3 linked regions of the Homo sapiens genome follow. The protein of the gene in region 1 purifies or fractionates together with the protein of each later gene. This does not show direct contact. Each region holds a gene or a part of one and is shown in the gene's direction. Other genes may lie near its edges.

What was found.
Region 2: the proteins of BPHL (region 1) and SETD3 purify together in Homo sapiens (affinity purification with mass spectrometry; 2 studies listed by BioGRID and IntAct, with this or other methods). This does not show direct contact.
Region 3: the proteins of BPHL (region 1) and PPP5C purify together in Homo sapiens (affinity purification with mass spectrometry; 2 studies listed by BioGRID and IntAct, with this or other methods). This does not show direct contact.

What each region holds. Positions count from the first base shown.
Region 1 is NC_000006.12:3,113,840-3,121,715, forward strand, and holds the start of BPHL (serine hydrolase BPHL isoform 1 precursor), read left to right. Parts: upstream 1-4,901; coding exon 4,902-5,008; intron 5,009-5,445; exon of another isoform or gene 5,446-5,617; coding exon of another isoform or gene 5,618-5,673; intron 5,674-7,876. UniProt on the Homo sapiens protein: Specific alpha-amino acid ester serine hydrolase that prefers small, hydrophobic, and aromatic side chains and does not have a stringent requirement for the leaving group other than preferring a primary alcohol.
Region 2 is NC_000014.9:99,456,803-99,463,904, reverse strand, and holds part of SETD3 (actin-histidine N-methyltransferase), read left to right. Parts: intron 1-326; coding exon 327-419; intron 420-2,564; coding exon 2,565-2,713; intron 2,714-4,719; coding exon 4,720-4,792; intron 4,793-5,369; coding exon 5,370-5,626; intron 5,627-7,102. UniProt on the Homo sapiens protein: Protein-histidine N-methyltransferase that specifically mediates 3-methylhistidine (tele-methylhistidine) methylation of actin at 'His-73'. Histidine methylation of actin is required for smooth muscle contraction of the laboring uterus during delivery.
Region 3 is NC_000019.10:46,342,194-46,350,159, forward strand, and holds the start of PPP5C (serine/threonine-protein phosphatase 5), read left to right. Parts: upstream 1-4,893; 5' UTR 4,894-4,903; coding exon 4,904-5,024; intron 5,025-7,966. UniProt on the Homo sapiens protein: Serine/threonine-protein phosphatase that dephosphorylates a myriad of proteins involved in different signaling pathways including the kinases CSNK1E, ASK1/MAP3K5, PRKDC and RAF1, the nuclear receptors NR3C1, PPARG, ESR1 and ESR2, SMAD proteins and TAU/MAPT.

The sequences.
Region 1 (7,876 bases):
TCACGTAGGCTCCTGTTAAAAACAAAGTGCAGTCAGATTCTAAGCCCTGTTCAGAGACTTCGTGGATCACAGCTGCAGCTCACCGCCACATCACAGGATCCGTTAACGTTAATACCCAATACTCTGTCAGCCACTGTAGGCTCTAAGAACCACGTGCAGTCTTCAGCCCATTAAATTATCGATTATTTTTTAATGAATTGAATTTATATTGAGTCTTCAAATTAACTGAATGGATTTAAAGGGGTACCAAGGAGGGGGGAAACATCAGAATTTCCCAGGCAGTTGTTGCAAGGAATTGGTACTAACCGTGACTACAACAAAAATTCTTGATTGACTTTTAAAGTTATTTCCTGGCATTCTGGTACCTTCACCCAGCCTGAGTGCCCTGGAGAGGGAACAGGAAATGCTGATCTCTACCCCTGGGTGAGACCAGAACCTCAGGGCTGATACTGTTGAGTGGCTTCCTCGGTTTACTCTGTGTACTGTGAAAGTATTTTCATATTTTTTCTGTGTGCCAGAGTGAAAAAGGACAGCTTCTGAGTGTGGTAATTGTGCCTCTAGCACCCAGCCTTTCAAAGCCCACCTGAAACCTGGGGGTGGATGAAAGAACTAGAATAGAAGACTGAAGCTGGGTAGGCCGCTCAGTGTCCACTGGCATTTTGCTAAACCGACAAGGAAGGCTGTGTGCTTAGCTCTCCCCAGAGGGAGGGCGAGAAGGGTGTGGTGATGGTCAATCTGGCTGTCGGAACAGATTCTGGTGTCTTGGGCTGATAACAGTGTTGTTGATTCTGATTGTGAATCCCCTCAACTCTAGCAGACACATACACACCCCTGAAATGGGGCTGCAGAGCAGGCTGTCTCAGCCTTGCCACTGTCGGCATCTCGGCCTGGGTAATTCTGTTGTGGGGACTGTCCTGTTCCTTGTAGGATGTTTAGTAGCATCCCTGCCCCCACCTACTAGATGCCAGGGGCACTGTTCTCCCCAGCCCCCCGCCCCAGTTGTGACAATAGTCTCTAAACATTGTCAAATGGTCCAAGGAAAGGGGAAAATTGCCCCGGTTGAGAAGAGCACTGCTGTAAAGTAATGAGCCTCGGCTCTCCTGTCTGCACCTGTCCGGTTACTACTTGGCCACCACGCAGCCTTGGCTCCTACAGCCCAAAAGGGAGAATGGAGGGAGGCTCCAGGCTTTGCTGGAGGGGCCTGGGTGAGTTCTGTTTGCTCCTTGTACCACCATCCAAATGGTGTTATCAAATCTCTTAGATTCCAAAGAGGTTGAATAATTAATGTTCAAAGGCAAGAGGGCAAGGCATTTTTTAACACTTTTTAAAATAAAAATTTATACCACAACTTTAGGCTATTGATGTGATGTGTCACTGGGACAGATGCGGATTCTCCATGGTGCCTCTGCCACTGAGGCCGCATTTCCTGAGCATAATCCCCTTTTACCCTCCCGCTGCCAAGCAGGAGACGGGATGCTGATGGTAAGAACACCTCCCTGCCAGTGCATTTTGGCGCTCAGGATGAGAGGCCTGCAGCACTGCTGTCCCCGCGCCTGGCTCTGGGGCCTTCCCTTCACCCCCACTCTCTCAGCACCATGGTGAGAAGAACCAAGTTTGCCTGTGAGGAGTTAGGTACAAGGCCCAAGCTCCACAAGAACACTGCTGTTAATGGGCAGAGCCAATGACGACACAGACCAGCAAAGCAGAACCGAGACTGTCCGCACTTGGTTCGGAAACAAATACTCACACCCTAGGTTATTGCTGGTAACGGAGACCTCCTTCCAGCTCCCACAGTCCTGCTTGGTAGATTTTCTACTTGTTGCTACAATCATCATCTTTGCTTTGGGTCTGTCACGTGAGGTTAGGGTTTCAGGAATAAAATGTTTAATAAATCACAAAATATTTTAGGCAGTATTTTGATGTACATTTTAATGTGTGGTATTTATGAAAGGGAAAGGGTTTTCTAATTATAATAAAGGCATAAATAGTGTAAATATTCAAGATTTTAGAAGCAGCTGATTTCAGAGAAATCACTGAAAGGTTAATGCTACTACAGTGATTTTTACAATATGCAATAATCCAAGTATACGACCAGGTATAGTGGCTCATGCCTGTAATCCCAGCACTTTGGGAGGCCAAGCTGGGAGGATCGCTTGAGGCCATGAGTTCGAGACCAGTGTGGACAACACAGCAAGACCCTATCTCCACAAAAACATTAAAAAATATTAGCCAGGTGTGGTGGTGTATGCCTGTAGTCCTAGCTTCTTGGCAGGCTAAGGTGGGAGGATCACTTGAGCCCAGGAGTTTGAGGCTGTGGGGAGCTGTGATCACACCGTGCCTCAATAATAATAGCAATCATCATCATCATCATCAAGTATAGAGTCCTGAAATTGAGAGCTCAAAACTCCCCCCTGCCCCTTCTCAGCTGTGTTACCCAGGCCTTGCTTCCTAACCTTTCGCCGTCATTATGCAAGTATAGAGTCCTGAAATTGAGCAGCTCAAAATTACTTTTCAGCTGTGTTACCTAGGGCTTGCTTCCTAACCTTTCTTAGCCTCAGTTGCCTCATCTATAAATGGAGAGTGCAATAGCACAGAAGGCTAATGTGAAGATTAAAGAAATATGATATATCATAAGGTGCCTGGCACAAAAATGGCAGTTTTTTTAAACTGTACGATCTTGCTATATATAAAGAACTGGTTGTCAGGTATGTTACTTAAAAATAGTGACACCACGCTGGACGCGGTGGCACACACCTGTAATCCTAGCACTTTAGGAGGCTGAGGCGGGTGGATCACCTGAGGTCAGGAGTTTGAGACCAGCCTGGCCAACATGGCAAAACCTCGTCTCTACTAAAATTACAAAAATTAGCCGGGCATGGTGGCGGGTGCTTGTAATCTCAGCTACTCAGGAGGCTGAGGCAGGAGAATTGCTTGAACCTGCGAGGCAGAGGTTACAGTGAGCTGAGATTGCGCCATTGCACTCCAGCCTGGGCAACAAGACCAAAACTCCGTCTCAAAAAAAAAAAATTGTGACACCAATAACCTAAAACTCAGTGCTACCGTTTTTTATTAGCACAAGGGTAACTGGTGTTGAAACTGTACAGACAGCTATTTTTATCATTTCTGAGATGAAACCCCAATCAACATATCAGGAAAAAAGGAAATACTGACCTCACCAAAGATTTCTGAAAGTCAAACGATATTAAACTCAAACATTATATATGTCTCTTTCCTTTTATGCAGGAATTAATGTGATAGATTTATGTTGAGAGTAGAATATGAAAACTTTTGCATAGTCTGTATTTAGGCCAAAACTGCCTTTACTACTCAAGAAAGTCCAATGGGCCAGTGAGGACACTGCAGGTGACAGAAATTTCTATGAGTGTAACACCTACAAGCACTGTGCTCACAGGACTGACTGTTACACCAAAAAGGTCTCTTGGAGGAGAAGAAATGCAATATGCAAAGAAGCTGTTGTCTCCAATTATTCAAGCCAAGGCTACAACAGTAGCCACAAATCTGCCAGTTATTTCCAATTAAGGCAGAACGATTGACTTAAAAAGCAATAGTTGTTTTTTTTCTCCACTGAGCTTTCAATTAGATAATGTCTATAACCTTTATAAAGCTGCAATTATACAGCCAAAAGAAAAAAAATTAATTGTGGTAAAACATACATAAAACTTACCACTTAAACCACTTTTAGGTGTGTAGTTCAGTGGCAGTAAGTACACTCACAATGTAATGCAGGCATCACCAAAATCCATCCCCAGGACTTTTTCATCTCTCCAAACTGAAACTCTGTCCCCATGAAACACCAACTTTCCATTCCCCCTTCCACCAGCCCTCAACAACCCCCATTCTATTTTCTGTCCCTATAAGTTTGACTCCTCTAGGTACCTTATTATATAAGTGGAATCACACAGTATTTGTCTTTTTTTGACTGGCTTACCTCCCTCAGCATAGTGTCCTCCAGGTTCATCCATGTAGTAGCAAGTGTCAGAATTTCGTTCTTTGTTCAGGCTAAAAAATGTTCCCTTGCATGCACAGACAACATTTTGCTTATCCATGTATCTGTTTTTGGACACTTAAATTGCCTCCACCCTTTTGGCTATTGTGAATAGTGCCGCTGTCAACGTGAGTGTAAAAACATTTCTTCTTGTACACCCTGTTTTAAATTCTTTTGGGTTATATACCCAGAAAAGAAAATGCTGGATCATATAACTGATTTGTTGAGGAACCGCAGTATTGTTCATCACATGGCTGCACCATTTTACATTCCCAACAGCAATATACAAGGGCTTCAATTTCTCTACATCTTCACCAACACTAATTTCTGGGGGTTTTGCTAGTAGCCATCCTAATGGGCGTGAAGTGGTATAAACAAAATTTAGATCCCATCATCTCCGAAAAGCAAATACACTTCCTAGTACTAGTCAGTACTAAATAGGTGCACAGCGTTTAGAACTTTACTTGATCCAACATAGCAGCCTGCCTAGAGCCGGAGCCCCGCCCACTCCGGAGTCCCGCCTGGACGCCGACGCAGCGAGGGCGCTATGGCTGGCGGCCTCGCCTCCTGGAAAGGCCATGGTCGCTGAGGCGACGAGCGAGGGCGGGGCAGCGCCGACGGGGACACTCATCCCGGGAGCCAGAGCCAGCACCGAGAGGGGACGGTCTACGCGGGTGCCGGCGGTTCCAGGACTGCGAAACCACGAGCCGAGTTTCGGTCGCCCATGGGAAAGCACCCGGCAGGGCGTGGCTTCGGGGCGGGGCGGGCAGAGGGCGGAGCAGGATGGAGAGGCGAGGTGGGCGGAGCAGAGGGCGTGGCTTCGGGGCAGAGTGGGCCGGGTACCGCGCTTGGTCTTAGCGCATGCGCACTCCCGGCAGCTACGCGACCTGTGACCATGGTGGCTGTGCTGGGCGGCCGGGGCGTGTTGCGCCTGCGGCTGCTTCTCTCAGCGCTGAAGCCCGGGATCCACGTCCCACGGGCCGGACCCGCGGCCGCGTTCGGGTAATGGCGGCCACCTCGCCCCGGGGATCCCCAGCATCGGCGCGCTCGAGGGGCGGCGGGAGGGGCGCGTGCCGACAGCAGGAGTTCCCGGCGCGCGGGCACGGGGCGTGGGCGCGGCCTGGCTGCCCTGTCGCCCTTTGTGCCGCGAGACCCCGATCCTGGGGGCCAGCCGCGCTTGGTGCTCGAGCCCCTCGATCGTGCATGCGCCTCGGTCAGCCTCAGTTCAAGGAGTCTGGAGCCGTGGAGGCTTGGGCTATAGAGTGCAGCCCCTTCAGTGTGCAGACCAGAGAGACCCAGGGAGATACATTTGCCTGTAGTATGGACTCACCCGTGACGGAGCACGGACTAGAATCCCAACGCCCTCATTAGTCCATTGCTCTGTCCAGAGTCCACACTAAGGGCATAAGGACAATAATCTCTTCTTTCTCTTATGTCAGAAATCAGCCTGAGCCTGAGTACCGCTAAGGCTTTAATCACGGGTCCCGAGAGCCCTAAGTCTTCTCTTTGCTTGCTGATCTCGTACCTTAATGTGCAAAAGAATCACGTTGGGAACTGAAAATTCAGAATCCTGGGCCTCACTCCCAGAGGATCTGATCTACATGTGTGGAGATGCCCAGGAATCTGCTTTATTCTCTTTTGTCCTCCCACCTGTCCCCCCATTTCAGGTAAAACAATAACAAAAAAACTGGATTAATTTCTGACCTTCTGTCTTGAAAATGGATACTCTTGGTCCCAAGAGATACTGGGCAGAAATGTGGATAGAGCGGCATGAAGCTTGTTTTACTTTATTCTCTACATACATCCCTACACACATGCAAACACACGTATACAACGAACGTACACAGTGCATGTGCGCAGTTGACTGTTGATGGGCTACTTTCATAAAGTCAGTACTAGATAGGTACACAGCGTTTAGAACTGTACTTGATCCAACATAGAAACTTTTAGTTTGAAAACTTGATTTAGAAGGAGAAAAGAGGGCAAATCTGACCAGCTTTTAAAATTTCATATTGCAATTGACTAGCTCCTTTAATTTTAGAATTATTATAAGATGGTCAGGGCTATTTTGATAGATGGAAAAACATGTTAATGGCTACAGCTGTATAAATTAACAGTGAAAATGATTATTTTTTCCAGTTTCCTGTCTGCAGAAAGGCATCGAAATAAGTTACTGTGATTGTACCAATATAGTTCTTTTTTTTTTTGAGACTGACTCTCGCTCTTTTGCCCATGCTGGAGTGCAGTGTTGTGATCTCGCTCACTGCAACCTCTGCCTCCCAGGTTTAAGCGATTCTCGTGGCCTCAGCCTCCCGAGTAGCTGGGATTACAGGTACCTGCCACCATGCCCGGCTAATTTTTGTGTTTTTAGTAGAGATGGGGTTTCACCATGTTGGCCAAGCTGATCTCGAACTCTTGACCTCAAATGATCCACCTGCCTCAGCCTCCCAAAGTGCTGGGATTACAGGCGTGAGCCACCGCTCTCGGCCTACCAGTATAGTTCTGATAGGTTATTTAATGGTTGAGGAAGGCCCCATCCATCTAGTTGCATTGCAGATCATTCTTCCTAAAATATCTCTGAAGAAACAGGTTTTTCTGGATTTTGTACGGCCGTTTTATAAATGCAGCTGCAAGTTGATATGACATATAATCTGGGAAAACAAGCAGTGGTATTAGTTAATCCTGAAATGCAGCTGTAGCTCAGTGTCAGTAGGTAAAAGGATTCGTGTAAAAACTTTGCTTCAGAATAGCCAGTGCCCAACCTACAACTGACTTTTGTTCCAAAAACTTGTTTGTAAGTCTGCTGTTTGGAACTTTGACCCTTATTTCAAAATCCGTAAGGTGATTTATTCCTGGGTCAGGTCAAGAAAAGCCTTTTCTACCTGAAATTGGATATTATGTGCAGTTATAAATATTAATAATTCACATAACCTAACAATCTTCCTAAAAAATATTTTCCAAGTTCAACCTTGGGATGCCCTGCCAGAGAATCAGAGACTGTCCTTCTGCTGACGCTTGCCACCACGCTGTATCTGGCAGTCAGAGTGTGGCCCCGGTGCCTGAGCCCTCTTAGGACTCTGTTCAGCCATGAGGTTAGAGAGGAATCATGGCCTCTGGAGTTCTAATGGCCCCGTGGCCACTTCCTAGCTCTGTGAGTGTGGGCAGATTGTTCAACCTCTCTGAGCCTCCTGCCTTGCAGCGTTTTTGTGAGGATTTGAAACAATAAATGTAAAAGCCTGGGGATATAATAAACATGAAGTAATTAGTAGGCACAATGGGAATATTTATATAATAGTACAATATATAAGAGATGTAAAAATAATTCATCAAGATTCATGCAAATTTCAAGCCCTGAAGGTAGCAAATACTTTATTGTAGATAATGGCTACTTCACAAAACATACACAAAAGAAATAGCTGAACATACAATATGATAATAGCAGTTTCTTTTTTTTTTTTTTTTTTTTTTTTTTTGAGACGGAGTCTCTCTCTGTCACCAGGCTGGAGTGCAGTGGCACGATCTCGGCTCACTGTAATCTTCACCTCCCAGGTTCCAGCGATTCCCCTGCCTCAGCCTTCTGAGTAGCTGGGATTACAGGTGTGCACCACCATGCCGGGCTAATTTTTTTGTGTGTATTTTAGTAGAGATGGCGTTCCACCATGTTGGGCAGGATGGTCTTGATCTCCTGACCTCGTGATCCTGACCTCGTGATCCACCCACCTGGGCCGCCCAAAGTATCGGGATTACAGGTGTGAGCCACCACACCTGGCCGATCCTAAGCTATCTTAACTGTAGAAATGAATTTCTCAGAGGAATAGGGCAGTAATCATAATAAGTAAATGGCAGAGTCAGTATTGCCATTGCTTGGTG
Region 2 (7,102 bases), on another chromosome or scaffold:
TTATCATAGATTTTCCTGTTAGTAAGTATATTCTAAAAAGAGTTAACTAAGAATAAGGTGGATGTGAGCTAGGTGCTTGCTCAGTGCTCTCTCTTGGGTACGTTAAGTGGGGGATGTTTTTATGATGCCCCAGGGTTTGTCTGCTTTGAGAAGTGTACCTGCCTTGTACTTCTCACATTCATTATCATGGCTGTCATATGTCTGTCTTTTAAAAATAAACCAACCCCAGAACAGCAACAACAAAGTCCAAATCCTCTTTCTTGTGCAGACTAGTAGGTTAAGTTGAAAGAGAGAAGTGTTTCAGTACCATGCCTCTTATGTTACAGAATGCAGCAGTCCGGCGCCTGGCCCAGGAAAAGAGTGGGAAGAGTATGTGCAGATCCGGACTCTGGTTGAGAAAATACGGAAAAAGCAAAAAGGTAAAATTGCTAGAATGATAACTGTATTTTAATAATGTCATGTAGAAACTTGATTAGGTCAAAGGGTTGACGAGTAGTAAAGGTCTCAGCATCATTGGTGTCACTCTGAAAGGTCTTGTACTGGGGCTTGCAGACCGGGAGAGAGAGCAGTTAGCGGGATTTCTCCCCTTTCTGAGATGCTATTACCTGCTTCGGAAAGGGTGAGAATGTTGAGCTTTAGGAGAATAAAATGTTTGTATCTGGGTGCTAAAATGATACAATTTTATTTATTTACATTTTATAAAGTATTATACCGTTATTTCCTTTTGAGTTTCAGGACAGTGCATATAGTGTATATCGTCAATAACAAATAAATGCTGATTGGTTAATGCATTAGCAAGGTTTATAATGAACTCACACACATCTCAGTTAAATAAGAGGTGTGGTCATATTCCTTAAGCTGTGTTTTTACAGGACGTATGCAGTCGCCATTGTAATGATTCTCATCCAGGCTGGCGTGGGGCTAAGTGTGAGTTTGAAAAAGCTCATTCACTATACCTATTGTTTTTGTTCTGTAAAGCACAAAAAGTAAAGATTATTATGCAGGACCACATGGAAGGTAGAAGCAGAAAACATCCTAAGGAGCATGCATTGGAATGTGGGGCCCTTTCTTATTGTCATGAAGGGCCTCAGGAGAGGGTTTGTTTTTTATTTGCTCTCTTTAAGTAGTGGTTTTATTGCTCTTCCATACACATCTCTAAACATGTAGTCTTCAGTTTAGATGGTCTCAGACTCCAAAATGGTGAGTTCATAATGGGTGTTTTCAAACAGGTTCCTTCATAATGGGTTTATTTGCACTAAATAGGAGTCTGTGCTAATCCTTTGTCACCAAGTGGGTAGCGCCTTAGTTTCTCTTCTGCGTAGATACTGTTTACTATACCTGACACTGAGGGTAAAGCATTTGCCAGTTCTCAAGGAGTGAATAGGAAGTTCCGTCTTTGAATATTCCTCATTCTGGTCATTTTCGCCATTTAGCAGGTATCTTCGCATATCCAGCATGCCCTCTTCACATATCAGGTTGACTGTTAATTATGCTGTGGTAAGATGGCCACAGGCGCCTGAGCTATGTGCCACACCCAGCTTCCTCATAGTAAAGTTCCTGTTCCCCTCCTTTTATTCATCCAAACAGAATAGTTTTTTCTATGCATGTCTTTTCATCTTTTTGACTACATAGGACATGCTGAAAAGTTCAGAAATTAATATAACAGATGTCCAAGAATCTGCTACCCCAGCTGAGCACATGTCAAAGTTGTATTCTCATTGTCCTTTCTTTTATTCTCACCCACTGATCAGCTTTCCTTTCCCTTCCTCAGCCCTTGGTTTTGTTTTTGTATTTGTTTTTAAGAAATAAAACATCACAGATACAGCCAAAGCCTCACATTTTCATCCCCTTCCATTCCCTCCCTCCTTGCAGGGTGTTCATCTTCACTGTGAATGTTTTCTACTTCATAAATAACCCCATAAAAATATATGGTTGTAATTGATATTTGAAAAATTTACATAAATGGTGTCATATTACGTGATTTTTTAAAAGCCACTGTGGTACATTTAGTGTTATACTTATGTTGATACACATAGCTCTAGCTCATTTAAATTGCCTTACAGCCTTCTGGCTTACAGCTCTACAGTTTTGTGTTCTTAGAATCAGGGCTGTGGGGCTCATCCTTTCCCATGTCTCCTTGTGCACATACGCGAGCTACTCATTTTTGTTTTAATGGAAATTTTGTTAAAGCAAATGTGAACATGAGAGGTGGCATGTTTGACTTTTAAGGAGAAAACTGCTCTGTAAATCATAGTAGTGGTAATAGAAGCTCTCTGCCCTTTGCCATCGTATTACCTAATAGTACCTAATAGTCAATATTTATATTACCTAGTGTCAGTATATATTTCACTGTAACTGACAGGGAGTTTAGGATTTTAATTCTTCTTCCCTGTCACCAGTTAAGGTATGTACTGTGACCATCTGGTGATTAGTTTTGATTTCAAGATTGGCGTGTTAAGACTATTTCCAGTGTTAGTTATGGCCTGTTTTTATTTTCTGAGAGACGTGTGAATGATATGTGTCCTAAAAGTAGCTCTTGTTTTCTAAAACGTGGATTAATATAGGTCTGTCCGTTACTTTTGATGGAAAAAGAGAAGATTACTTTCCTGATCTAATGAAATGGGCCTCTGAAAATGGGGCTTCTGTCGAGGGTTTTGAAATGGTTAACTTCAAAGAAGAGGGCTTTGGTTTGAGAGCAACAAGAGATATCAAGGTGAGTTTATAAAATGTTGGTCTCAAGGGGTCTATGTGTTTGAACTGTGGTGTGCTGTAGAGGGCGCAGGGTGAAGAGGTAGACGTGTGGTGGGGGAGTTCTAGTTCTGAGCCTGTGGGCAGATAGGCAGCCTGGAAGGGCCTTGGGCTCATGTTCTAAGCAGCTCCTCCCACCTTATCCTCCTGGGGAGCCAAGTTGCTAATCAGTGACTGGGGCAAGTCAGTTCACATTTCTGAGCCTCTGTTAGGAGACCATAGAACATGCCTCACAGGATTTTGAGATTTACCTAAAGATAAGGAGGTGGACTCATGGTTTGGATTTTGTAACTTACTGGAGGTGAGTGGGTGGAGGACTGGCGGTGTGGGTATGCCTACTAGTGTCTGAAATGGATGACTATGAGGCTGAAGGTACTAGGAGCTCACTGAAATGGCAATACCAGTGGCAATAGGGAGAGGAGAGAGAAACAGCCACCTACTAAGGAAGAAGGGCTTTTTCTCCCCTCTTGGTTCTTGGTTCTTCTTTCCACATGAAGGGAGCAGCAGTCACTGGCCATGCCTGGCCTCTTCTCACCCCTCACTCATGTCTCTTCTAAGAGGAGGCACTCCTTCATCTGTTGGCCAAGTTTGGGAGAAGGAACTGGACTTGGCCTTTTTCTCGATGGGAGCTAGTTGCCCGTATGCATTCATTCCACTCTGCTCTCTGCCCTGGAAGCTTTGCAGGGGCAGGCCACATGTGGGGAGGGCGGTGGGGATCCAGCTCTGCCTGTAACTAGGTGGGGGAGTCTGTCTAATTCTGGGATTCAGTAGGTGATATTTTGGGTGACCATCTGTTGTATTCTATCTCTCTCTCAGTTGCTTCAGAACTTGGGTGGAGGAAGGGGTGTTATTTGGGCCCCCTCAAACCTCCAGCAACATTTTTGGCTAAGTTGTAGTTAACCTTTCATTGATAGATTGATAAATCACATGCTGGTATATTAGATACCTGTTAAATGTCTACTGTGTGAATGGTAGTATCTTGCTTCCAAAAAAACCAGTCTCTTCCTTCATGATGCTTATAATCTATATAGTAAGGGACAAGACAGGTACAAATAACTTAATAGTTGACATTGGTGAAAGCAAGATGCCACATGTTCTTCTCTTGTGACAGATTCAAGGCAGTATTTGTGTGGATGCTGCCCAGAAGATCCGAGCTGTGGACTTTCCTCACTATGTGCTTTTGTGGGGAGGCGAGGGTTGGGGAGGAGGTCTTAAACAACAGACATTTATTTCTCACAATTTGGAGGCTGAATGTCCAAGATCTCAGGGTGCTGGCATGGTCTGTTTAGGTGAAGACATTCTTGGTTTGCAGACAGCTGCCCTCTTGCTGTCTCCCACATGTTGGAGCGCCATGTGCATGTTTTTTGCAGTGTAGATACACAGGACACAGCAAAAGGAAGCAGCCTGTATTGCCAAAAAATGAGAAAAAGCTTTGGGAAACAAATTTCTAAACCAATGTGTCTTCTGGGCATGTGATTTCACTAGTAACTGTTGTGCTTTAAAGATAAGTATGTAGAGGAAGGAATGTTACTCTGGCTTCAAAACTCAGTAGTAGTAGTAATTCACATCGACAGATTAGGGTTTTTGTTGGAGGCAGGAATTTTGTTTTGATTTGGTCTGGTTTTAGAACTTAAAAGTACAGTAAAGTATACAGTAAACGCCTTTATGCTCTACTCCAAATGTTATATTTGCTTCAGGTTAAAGTTGAAAGTCCCTTTTTTGATTATTTGCTTCTCAGCATATGTAGTTTTTAGTTTTTCTGTTGGAAACAGGATTTTAAGCTATACTTCTACTCATTTAACTATAAGATAAATGCTTACATTTTAAAATGTATTTGAATATTTATTTGAAGTGCTGATATGCAGCCTTAAGTTGTACTTCATGTGTGATTGGATTTCTGACCGTAGATATGGTTGGATTGAAGACTGTACCGTGTTTTGATGATTCTCCTATTATTATTTTTTTCCCTAGGCAGAAGAATTGTTTTTATGGGTTCCACGAAAATTGCTAATGACTGTTGAATCTGCTAAAAATTCAGTGTTGGGTGAGAATAATTTCTGACTCTTCAAGGCAAAGCACAAATGACAAAAATATGTAAAATTCCATTTTATGGCACTAAGGATAATACTTGGTTTTTCTCGACTGGCGAAATATTCCCTCAAATATGCATTAAGTGTTTTTCATTTAATGTTATAAAAAAGATGCACATGACCTTTATTTATTATTATTATTATTTTTGAGATAGGGTCTCGCTTTGTCACCTAGGCTGGAGTACACTGGCACCATCATAGCTCACTACAGCCTTGATCTCCCAGGCTCAAATGATTCTCCCACAGGTGTGCACCACTACATCTGGCTAATTTTTTTTTTTTTTTTTTTTTTGTAGTGATGGGGTTTTGCTATATTGCCCAGGCTGGTCTCAAAGTCCTGAGCTCAAGCAATCCTCCCACCTTGACCTCCCAAAGTGCTAGGATTACAGGTGTGAGCCACTGCGCCCAGCCTGTACCTGACTTTAAATGTTACAAGACCTTTTAGTTTTTCTGTAATTTGTAAACGTATATTTAAATGAAGTTTTTAAGAAGTTTGTGGAACTTACGCTGTTAACTTCTGGGTTAATTCAGGGCCCTTATATTCTCAAGACCGAATCCTTCAAGCCATGGGAAACATCGCACTGGCCTTTCATTTGCTGTGTGAGCGAGCCAGCCCTAACTCCTTCTGGCAGCCCTATATTCAAACCCTCCCCAGTGAATATGACACTCCTCTCTACTTTGAAGAAGATGAAGTTCGGTATCTTCAGTCCACACAAGCTATACATGATGTCTTCAGCCAGTATAAAAACACAGCTCGACAGTACGCCTACTTCTATAAAGTCATCCAGGTGAGCAGCTGTTTGCAATTTAAGTATATATTTCACAGAGTGGGGAGGAAAGAGGAATTGAGTCCATAAATATTCCATTTGATGTCTTATTAAGGATACTTAAACATTTTACTTTTTAAATTGAAAATATAAAATACATTTCATCGTTTGTTTTTACAGAAATATCAATGAAATGCGGTTACATATATATATCTGATTTCATCAGTGCCCAGTGTTAATACAAGCAGCAGTTGTTCCTGAGTTATTGAAATCACCAAGTTTTTTTGTAAACAAAAGATCACAATGAAATTTTAAAAGCCTTAAAGCATATCTAATGCAATAAGTTACTCTGTGTATAAATTTTTCAAGAAAATGAGGGTTAATTTTTTTCTATATATGTTAGTGTAAAATATTGACAGTTAATTTAGCAAATTATAACATTTATGTTTTTCAACGTGTACTGTGTATTAATTTTAATTTGTTCTCAGTGAAAGTTTCTCATAGAAATCTCTATAAGGCTCCAAGTATTTGAATTACCTGTGATGACACCTTTCTGTATTTTGGTGGTGTGGCCACCGTTATCTTTCATTTGCAGTTGAACAGCAGTCAGAAGGAACAGGGCCAGTACCACAGTCCCCACCAGGACTGAGAGGCAGTGTGGCTCCTTCTCCTGATTCTGCACAATCTGAATCACTCAAGAGTCAGCTCCTGGGCTGCTGTTCTTGAGATACGACAAGTGGGCAGGTGAACTACTTGCTCGCTTTCCTTGTCTTTGGTTGGTGTGACAACCTGAATTAGGTTTGATTTGGTTGTTCCTTAAATGGTCTATCCTTGCTATGTTTTATTTGCAAGAAGTGGTAACCTCATTTCATTGCTACAGGTGATATTGCTTTCCGTTTATTATTTTCACTTTGTAGCATGCTTACTACACAAGAATGTTACACTCAGTTACATCTCCTCCTCCAGCAAGCACTTCAAATATGTCAAAAATTATACATGACTGTTGTCTTCATGTGGAAATCAATCACTCGGTTTTTCTAAACTTTAGGAAGTCATTAGGAATGGTCATACAGTATGTATATAGCTTTTATTTCAAGTTGGCTTAATTTAAAAACTATTGATGAAGCCAAATCAAAACTTTGCTTCTTCATATAGTGTGCACCTGCAGTCCTGCAGTCTAAGGTTGGTTTGGCTCTTCATGACCTGGAAGGGTTATACTTTTATTCTTAGTTCTCAATGGTATATCTTTCATGACTAAAGGTTAAGCTGACTTTAGTAGGTCTAAGTATTTGTCATTTTCTCTTGCTGGACAATGAACTACAAGCTGGCCCTTTTTACTAATGTGCTTCTAGTTTGCAAACGCTGGTAGCCTGCTCTGAGAGGACTCTCTTCTGTTGGCAGGTTGGAGGGTCTAGGATGATGGCAGGTCTTCTGATAACCGACTTGGCGTGAATGAGCTTTGGCTGTTTCTTTGTATTAACTGGTCCATTTACTTCA
Region 3 (7,966 bases), on another chromosome or scaffold:
AGCTCCTCCTCACTCAAGATCTGACTCCAAATTACCCTGGGTCTAGAATTCAGCCTTCAAATATCTTCTGATTTTAGACTTTGCCTTATACATTTCTCTGGTTTTAGATCTTACCACCCTCAACTCCTTCTGATTCTAGATCTTATGGTTCCCAAATCTCTCTGGTTCTAGAACTCAGATTTTAGGCTTTTGTTTTTCCTTTTTTTTGTTAAAAAAAAAAAAATAGAGACGGGGTTTCACCATGTTGCCCAGGCTGGTCGCGAACTACTGAGCTCAAGCAATTCTCCCTCCTTGGCCTCACCAAAGTGCTGGGACTACAGGCATGAGCCACTGAGCCCAGCCAGGCTTTTTCTAATTCTATGCTTTATTCTATAAATTCCTCTGCTTCTAAGCCTCACAGCTTCCAACTGCCTTTGATTTCAGATCCAAATTCCTCTGATTCTATAATTCAGCCTCCAAATGCTTCTGATTCTGGAATCTAGACTTTTCCCTAAAGATTCCTCTGGTTCTGAATCTTATAACCTCAACTCCCTAATTCCAGACCCCAGCCTCCTAAATCTATTCTGGGCTTCCCACCCCACTGAACTTACCCAATTCCTTCTTTCAGTCTTAAGTTTTCCCATTCTAAACCCCTACCCTCTAGGCTGTGCTGCTCCTGGACTTCATGCCTCTCCATTCTCATTGCCTACAATCTCTGTGCCCCAGAACCCCCTCCACTTCCCACCCCAGCCCTCCAGACATGCACTTACCTTGACTTTACCCCACATGTTTGGGGCACCTGGGGCTCCCTCACCCCTTGGGTGGTTTGCAATCTGAAGACTTCTCCAGCCACACAGGCACATGCACAGGCACGGTGCTGTCTGCATATTGCCAGGTGGGGAGAGAAGCCAGGACCCCTCAGCTGTCTGCCACCATCTATGTGCCTCCCTTACCCCCCAGCTTTCTTTCTACAGATGGTGCTACTCTTGGTCTCCCACAGGAAAAGGCCTCCCCCCTTCTTAGCCCCATTTACCCCGTTTGTGGAAGGCACTGCTCGCTCTGTTTTGTCAGAGAGTGGCCTATCCAGATTGGTGCTATGGGGGGGTCTGACCCCTCCCTCCTCCCTCTGGAGGTGATGTGGGCCCTCAATGGAGGGAATTGTGCTGGGCTAGGGAAAGGGGAGGGACTAGACTGGCCACACTGGCTCTGAAACTCACCAATCTCTATACACCATAAAGACCTCACCTTGGTAGGCACCAGAGCTCTGCGTGTTGACTCATCTTTTGGATCTCCTCTGGGAGTGTGGGTGCACTGGTGGCTGAGTGTCTTTTTTTTTTTCCTTCCTTCCTTCCTTCCTTCCTTCCTTCCTTCCTTCCTTCCTTCCGCTCTCTCTCTTTCTTTTCTTTTTTTTTTTTTCTTGGAGTCTCACTCTGTTGCCCAGGCTGGAGTGCAGTGGCACAATCTCTGCTCACTGCAACCTCCACTACCCAGGTTCAAGCGATTCTCCTGCCTCCGTCTCCCAAGTAGCTGGGATTTCAGGCATGTGCCACCACACCCAGCTAATTTTTGTGTTTTTAATAGAGATGGGGTTTCACCACATTGGTCAGGCTGGTCTCGAACTCCTGAACTCAGGTAATCTGCCCGCCTCGGCCTCCCAAAGTGCTGGGATTGCAGGCATGAGCCACCATGCCAGGCCCTTTCTTTCTTTCGAGACAGGGTCTCACTATCTCACCCAAGCTGGAGTGCAGTGGTGTGATCACGGCTCACTGCAGCCTCCTGGGCTCAAGCAATCCTCCCATCTCACCCTTCCCGGTAGCTGGGACTACAGGTGCATGACACGAGGCCCAGCTAATTATTTTCATTTTTTTGTAGAGACAGAGCCTTACCATGTTGCCCAGGCTGGTCTCAAACTCCTGGGTTTAAGCGATCCTCCTGCCTCAGCCTCCCAAAGTTCTAGGATTATAGGCTTGAGCCACTGCACCAGCCCCATGTTACTTTCTGATTCTGTGTATCTGTATGTGTGTGTGTGTGTGCATGCACACGAGTGTGTGCACAGTGTCATTCTGTGTATGTGTATGGGTCTTTGTCACATTCTGTGAACCTGTGTTGCAGCAGGTGGGTGGGGTTGTGATTCCTTCTACAAGTGCATATTAGTATCTGGGTGAAGTGATTCTGCCTTATGTGTGTTTCTGGTTATTTTGGGTTTCTGTGTTTCTGAGTGTGGAAGGTGCTGTGATTTTTTTTTTTTTTTTTTGCCTATGTATGTCTGTATGATGTGATTCTGTGTACATGTGTGGGACTGCTTGATGCTATAATTCTGGGTACCAATGTGTGTGTGACATGATTGCCCATAGTTAAGTGAGCATGTGTGTGCAAGAGTGTGTGTCCATGGACTCATGTGCAGGTGGGTGTGTCTGTTGTCATGTACGTCACTCTCATAACCCCCCATACAGGGTTGCACATAGGAATCTCTTCAAGGGAAGAAAAACACTCTCAAGCCTTTGCACTTCCTATTCTTCTGCCTGAAATGCCTCTCTCCCTTCCCCTCTCCCCTCACTTGGTTACCTCCTACTCATATTTCACATCTTGGTTTAGGTAACAGCTACTCCAGGAAGCCTTCCCTGCCTGCTCCAATTGGGTAAAGTGCCCCTAAAAGCTCCCCTTGGAAGCCCCCTCCCATCACAGCACTAGGCACTCTGCCCAACTCTGAATATTTGTTTTGTTTTATTTGTTTTTTGAGACAGAGTCTCACTCTGTAGCCCAGGCTGTCGTGCAGTGGCGCGATCTCGGCTCACTGCAGCCTCCGCCTCCTAGGTTCAAGCAATTCTCCTGCCTCAACCTCCCTAATAACTGGGACTATAGGTGCGCACCATCATGCCCAGCTAAATTTTTGTATTTCTGGTAGTGACGGGGTTTTGCCATGTTGGCCAGGCTGGTCTTGAACTTCTGACCTCAAGTGATCTGCCTGCTTTGGCCTCCCAAAGTGCTTCGATTACAGGCATGAGCTACCATACCCAGCCCACTTTGAGTATTTGTGATGGAGTGAATATAAAAGTACTACTCTGTGTCAGGCTCCCTGACAAATGCTGTACTCATGTTGTCGAACTCTCCTCTAATCCTGTATGATGGGGATAATTATTATCCCCACTTTACAGAGGTTGAAACTGAGGCTTAGAAGAGGGTGATCACTTGCCCAAGGTCACAGTGTCAGGAAGGATTCCGCTGGACTCGAAACCAGAATTCAAATCCACTATGGCAGCTCCTTTTCCCCCAACCCCAAAACAAACAATACGAACAAACAAAAGAAAAATTTACTAACCCACCAAGATGGGCTCTGGCACCTACAGAGGCAGTAGAGTGGCAATGAAGGACATAGGAATTAGATGGGATTCCTGATCCTGGCTCTGTCACCTTCTTATGTTGTTGTGACCTTCGTCAAACACCTCTGCAAGTCTGTGTCTTTATCTGTAAAATGGAGATGATACTAATATCTGCCCTTTAGGGTGATTGTTGGTTGTGCTGGGGGCCAGTAGGAGAGATGGGGTTGGACTAACAAGAGGTTTGGGAGTGGGATAGATAGGTTTAGGAGTGTGCTTCCAGGAGGGGATCCAGAGCCTTACAGGACTTAGTGCTACATGAGGGCTTAGAAAGGACAGACTGGAAGCGTGTACGGCGGGTGGGGATTGGCAAAGGGGTGGAATCTGGATATTAGACTATTCAGCCTGAGGTTAAGACTATTCAGGGTCTCCTAATCAGGAGTTTGGGTTTTCTCCTAAGGGTGCTGGGGCCATGGAAGCCTGGGAGCGAGAGTGTGCCATGGTTTTATCATGTCTTAGAAAGATCCCTCGGCCGGGCACGGTGGCTCACGCCTGTAATCCCAGCACTTTGGGAGGCCGAGGCGGGCGGATAGCTTGAGGTCGGCAGTTCGAGGCCAGCCTGGCCAACGTGGTGAAACCCGTTTCTACTAAAATACAAAAATTAGCCGGGCATGGTGGCGGGCGCCTGTAATCCCAGCTACTTGGGAGGCTGAGGCAGAAGAATCGCTTAAACCGGGAGGCGGAGGTTGCAGTGAGCCTAGATGGCGCCACTGCACTCCAGCCTGGGCGACAGAGGGAGACTCCCTCTCAAAAAAAAAAAAAAAAAAAAAAAAATGTGAAGGGTAAACTGGAGGGAGGCAGAGTGCATGCAATCAATGCTGTGATCTCAGACAAGAGAATCTGTAAAAACACAAACAGGAGAGTTTATTTGAAGATTCAGGATTTGGGAAGCTGAACACAGGAAGAAAGGAGATGGTGCAACACACTTCTAAGCCTTGCTCAGGACTTGAAATCCAGAGTGCCTTCAGTTAAAAACTCAAACACTGACCCTCAAGGTTGGACCCTTTTTGGCTTGAGAAACCACTAATTTTTCAGAGATGGGTAACTGAGACCCTAGAGAGGAAGGGAAGATTTGTTCAAGGTCACACAGGTAGTCGACAATAGGGCTCGACGCCCGGGTCCGGCTCCGCGTAGGGCATGGCGCTGCCTTGCAAAACAGCCACACCCGCCAGCGACATTCACAACCCACCCCCCAACCCTAGAGGACAGCGGGGAAATCCCACTTTCAGAACCGAGAAACTTTTTACAGCCTTGGAACACGGTAACTTTGGGAGGAGAGGCCACACCAGGTCTGTTTCCCCGCGCGCCCCTTCTCTCATTCCCTATTGGCTCTCTCTACCAGGGGTACCGTCTGGGGAACCTCTGGTCACCTTGTCCTCCGCGCGCTCTGTGGCGAAAGGGACCTGCGCAGGCGCGTGAAGGGCGCCTTCAGGGCCCGCGCTTTACGACACTTGTGCGGCAGCGGCGGCGGCCACCCGGCGCTCCTTCGCGACGGTTCGGCCGGGTGCCGCTGGCGGCCGTTGCCAGGGTAGGGGTCGCTTTGCGGCATGGCGATGGCGGAGGGCGAGAGGACTGAGTGTGCTGAGCCCCCCCGGGACGAACCCCCGGCTGATGGAGCTCTGAAGCGGGCAGAGGAGCTCAAGACTCAGGCCAATGACTACTTCAAAGGTGCGCCCGCCTGGCAGGGAGGGTGGACAGTGGCCCAGGCTGAGGGGTGCCGGGCCCGCGCGGAACCATAGCAACGCGGAGCTGCAGCCTGGGCGCGGGGCAGACACTACCAAGTGACCGGGCGTGGGGAGGCCCAGGATGGCGCTGCCAAGGAGCGACATAGGGGGCTTCGGAGAGTGATACCTAGGAGTGGCGTGCGGAGCGGGTGCTACTCAGTGGAGAGACTGAGGAGGGCGCCACCAATTGTGGGGCGAGAGGGGGACTGGAATGAGGGCGCTACCAAACGTGAGGCCTGTAGAGGGCGCTACCAGGCAGTGACATGTGGTGGGGGAGTGATTGATGGCGCTACCAAATGGGGAGTCCTGGGGTGGGTGCCGCCAAGTGGGGGGTAGAGGGGGCACAGCCCCAATAGAGAAGGCAATCGTGGGGGTGGGGAATGGATCATTAGATGGGGGGAACAAGGAAGTAGGAGATTTGGGCTGACCCGAGGAAAAGGAATGTGATGGTGGGGGCCTTGGGAGTAAGGGTGGGGATCCTTAAGAATAGTATCACTTAGAATATTGAGAGTCAAGTGTGGGGCACCCATTCATTCATTAATTCAACAAATATTTATTGAGTACCTGTTATGTGCCAAGGACTGTGCTTGACTTTGGGGATATAGCAGTGAATGAGACAGATGTGGCCCTGTCCTTAGCTTGTAATTTTGCAGGTGAACCAGACATGAAAAAAAAAAAAACAAAAAAAAACCATGTAAATAAGTAAAATACTTAAATTGTGATGAGTGCTTTGAAAGCAAACCAGCAGTGTGATGAAGTAGAGAATAAGGGTTGGAGGCTACTTTAGATAGGGTAGTGGGGGAAGGCCTTACTGAGCAGGAGGCGTTTAAGCTGAAACTCACAGAGGGAGAACTGGAGAGGAGTGTTCCAGGGAGGTAAAGCAGCCTGTGCAAAGGCCCTGGGATGGGGAATGAAAGGGTACTGGCATGGCTGGGGCTTTGGCTACTTAGGGGGAGACCAATAACAAGATGAGATTAGGACAGAGGCCAGATCATGCAGGGTCTCCGTGAGTCATTACAAAGACCAGTTTGGAATTTTTTTTTTTTTTTTTTTTTTGAGACGGGAGTTTTGCTCTTTTTGCCCAGGCTAGAGTGCAATGGCGCAATCTCGGCTCACTGCAACCTCCGCCTCCCTGGTTCAAGCGATTCTCCTGCCTCAGCCTCCCGAGTAGCTGGGATTATAGACGCACACCACCATGCCCAGATAATTTTTGTACTTTTAGTAGAGATGGGGTTTCGCCATGTTGGCCAGGCTGGTGTCGAACCTCTGACCGCAGGTGATCCGCCCATCTCGGCCTCTCAAAGTGCTGGGATTACAGGCATGAGCCACCACGCCCAGCCCTACAAGAAGACACATTAAGTAAATGGGCCAGTCTGGACTGGAGAAGAATTTGGGTGTGATCAAACTATGGTTGGGAATGGATGAGATCATCTAGTAAGAGGGTCTAGAGGGGGGACTTAGGACAGAACCCAAATGGAAGAGGGTGAGGCTAAGGAGGAGCACTTAGTGAGGTGGAAAGGAAGCCAGGAAAGGTGTCGGGAAGGCTGAGAGAAGGGAGCGCTTCTAGAACAAGGAGCTGGTGCCTTTAGTCCGATGCTGCCAAGGCAAGCACTGGCCATTGGCTTTGGCTCCATGGATGCTGGTAGTGATGTTGACAGGAGCAGTTATTGGGGAGTGATGGGGGTGATGCAGCCAGGAGGTGCTGAAGAGTGAATGGGAGGGGAGGAAGTGGAGACAGCAAATGTTAAGTGTTAGGAGTATTGGTTCTGAAGGGGAGTGGAGAAATGGGGGAGGGTGGTAAGACGAGAACGTGCACAGGAGTTCGAGACCAACCTGGCCAACATGGTGAAACGACGTCTCTGCTGAAAAAATTAGTTGGGTGTGGTGGCACACACCTGTAGTCCCAGCTACTTGGGAGGCTGAGGCAGGAGAATTGCTTGATCCTTGGAGGCAGAGGCTGCAGTGAGCCAAGATCACACCACTGCATTCCAGCCTGGGCAACAGACTCCGTCTCAAGAAAAAAAAAAAGAGAGAAGATGCAGTGTCAGGGAAAGATGGATTTTTTGTAAGGATGGAAGAGAGTAGAGTCCAATAGAGATGGAGAATTGATTCTGCACAGGAGAGGGGGGACTTGCAGCAGCAAAACCCTGGAGAAGGCGGAGGTGGGAAGGGTCTGGAGCCCTGGAAGAGACTTGGCCTCCAACGGGAGCAGAAGCAAAGTGTGGAGAAGCTCGATCCGGTGGGAGCCGTGAGAGGGAGGTAGGACCAGTGAGAGATGAGGCCAGAGGTAGAACCTTGGAAGTCAGATTGGGGAATATGGGTGTCATCCTGGGGGTGGTCGATGCCATGGGAAGTTTCAAGAGCGGGGTGCTGTGGTTCAGTTAGTGTTCAGAAAAGATCCCTGGCTGCCATGCAGAGACTGGACTCCAGGGTAAGACAGGAAGGAGTCTAGATTAGTGGACAGGTGAGGAGGGGTGGTGATCGCCAGCCAGGCTGGAGGGACAGAAATAGATTCAAGAAGTGTTTCAGGGAGGAAGTGAGAGTGGCTGCCTGGAGAGAGGGTGGACGGTACTCCAGGCAGGGAAAAAAAAAACAAAAACAGGTGGCAAAGGCCCAAAGGTGAGCAGAGCCAGGCATGGAGGCCATAAGTGGGGCCACAGCGTAGGAGGCTGGAGGAGGTTATGATGAGTTTGCAGGGAGTAGATTGCGCAGGGCTGTAGGAAGGAGCCAGGGCTTTCTGGGGTGGGGTGGCGGTGGGGGGTGGGGCTCTGGGGAGCCCTGGGAGGTTCTGAGTAGGGAAAGGACAGGGTCAGGTTTGTGTTTTAGGAACACCCCTCTGGAGGGGCAGGACAAGAGGCTGCGAGGCCAGGTGGAGGCTGAGCCAGG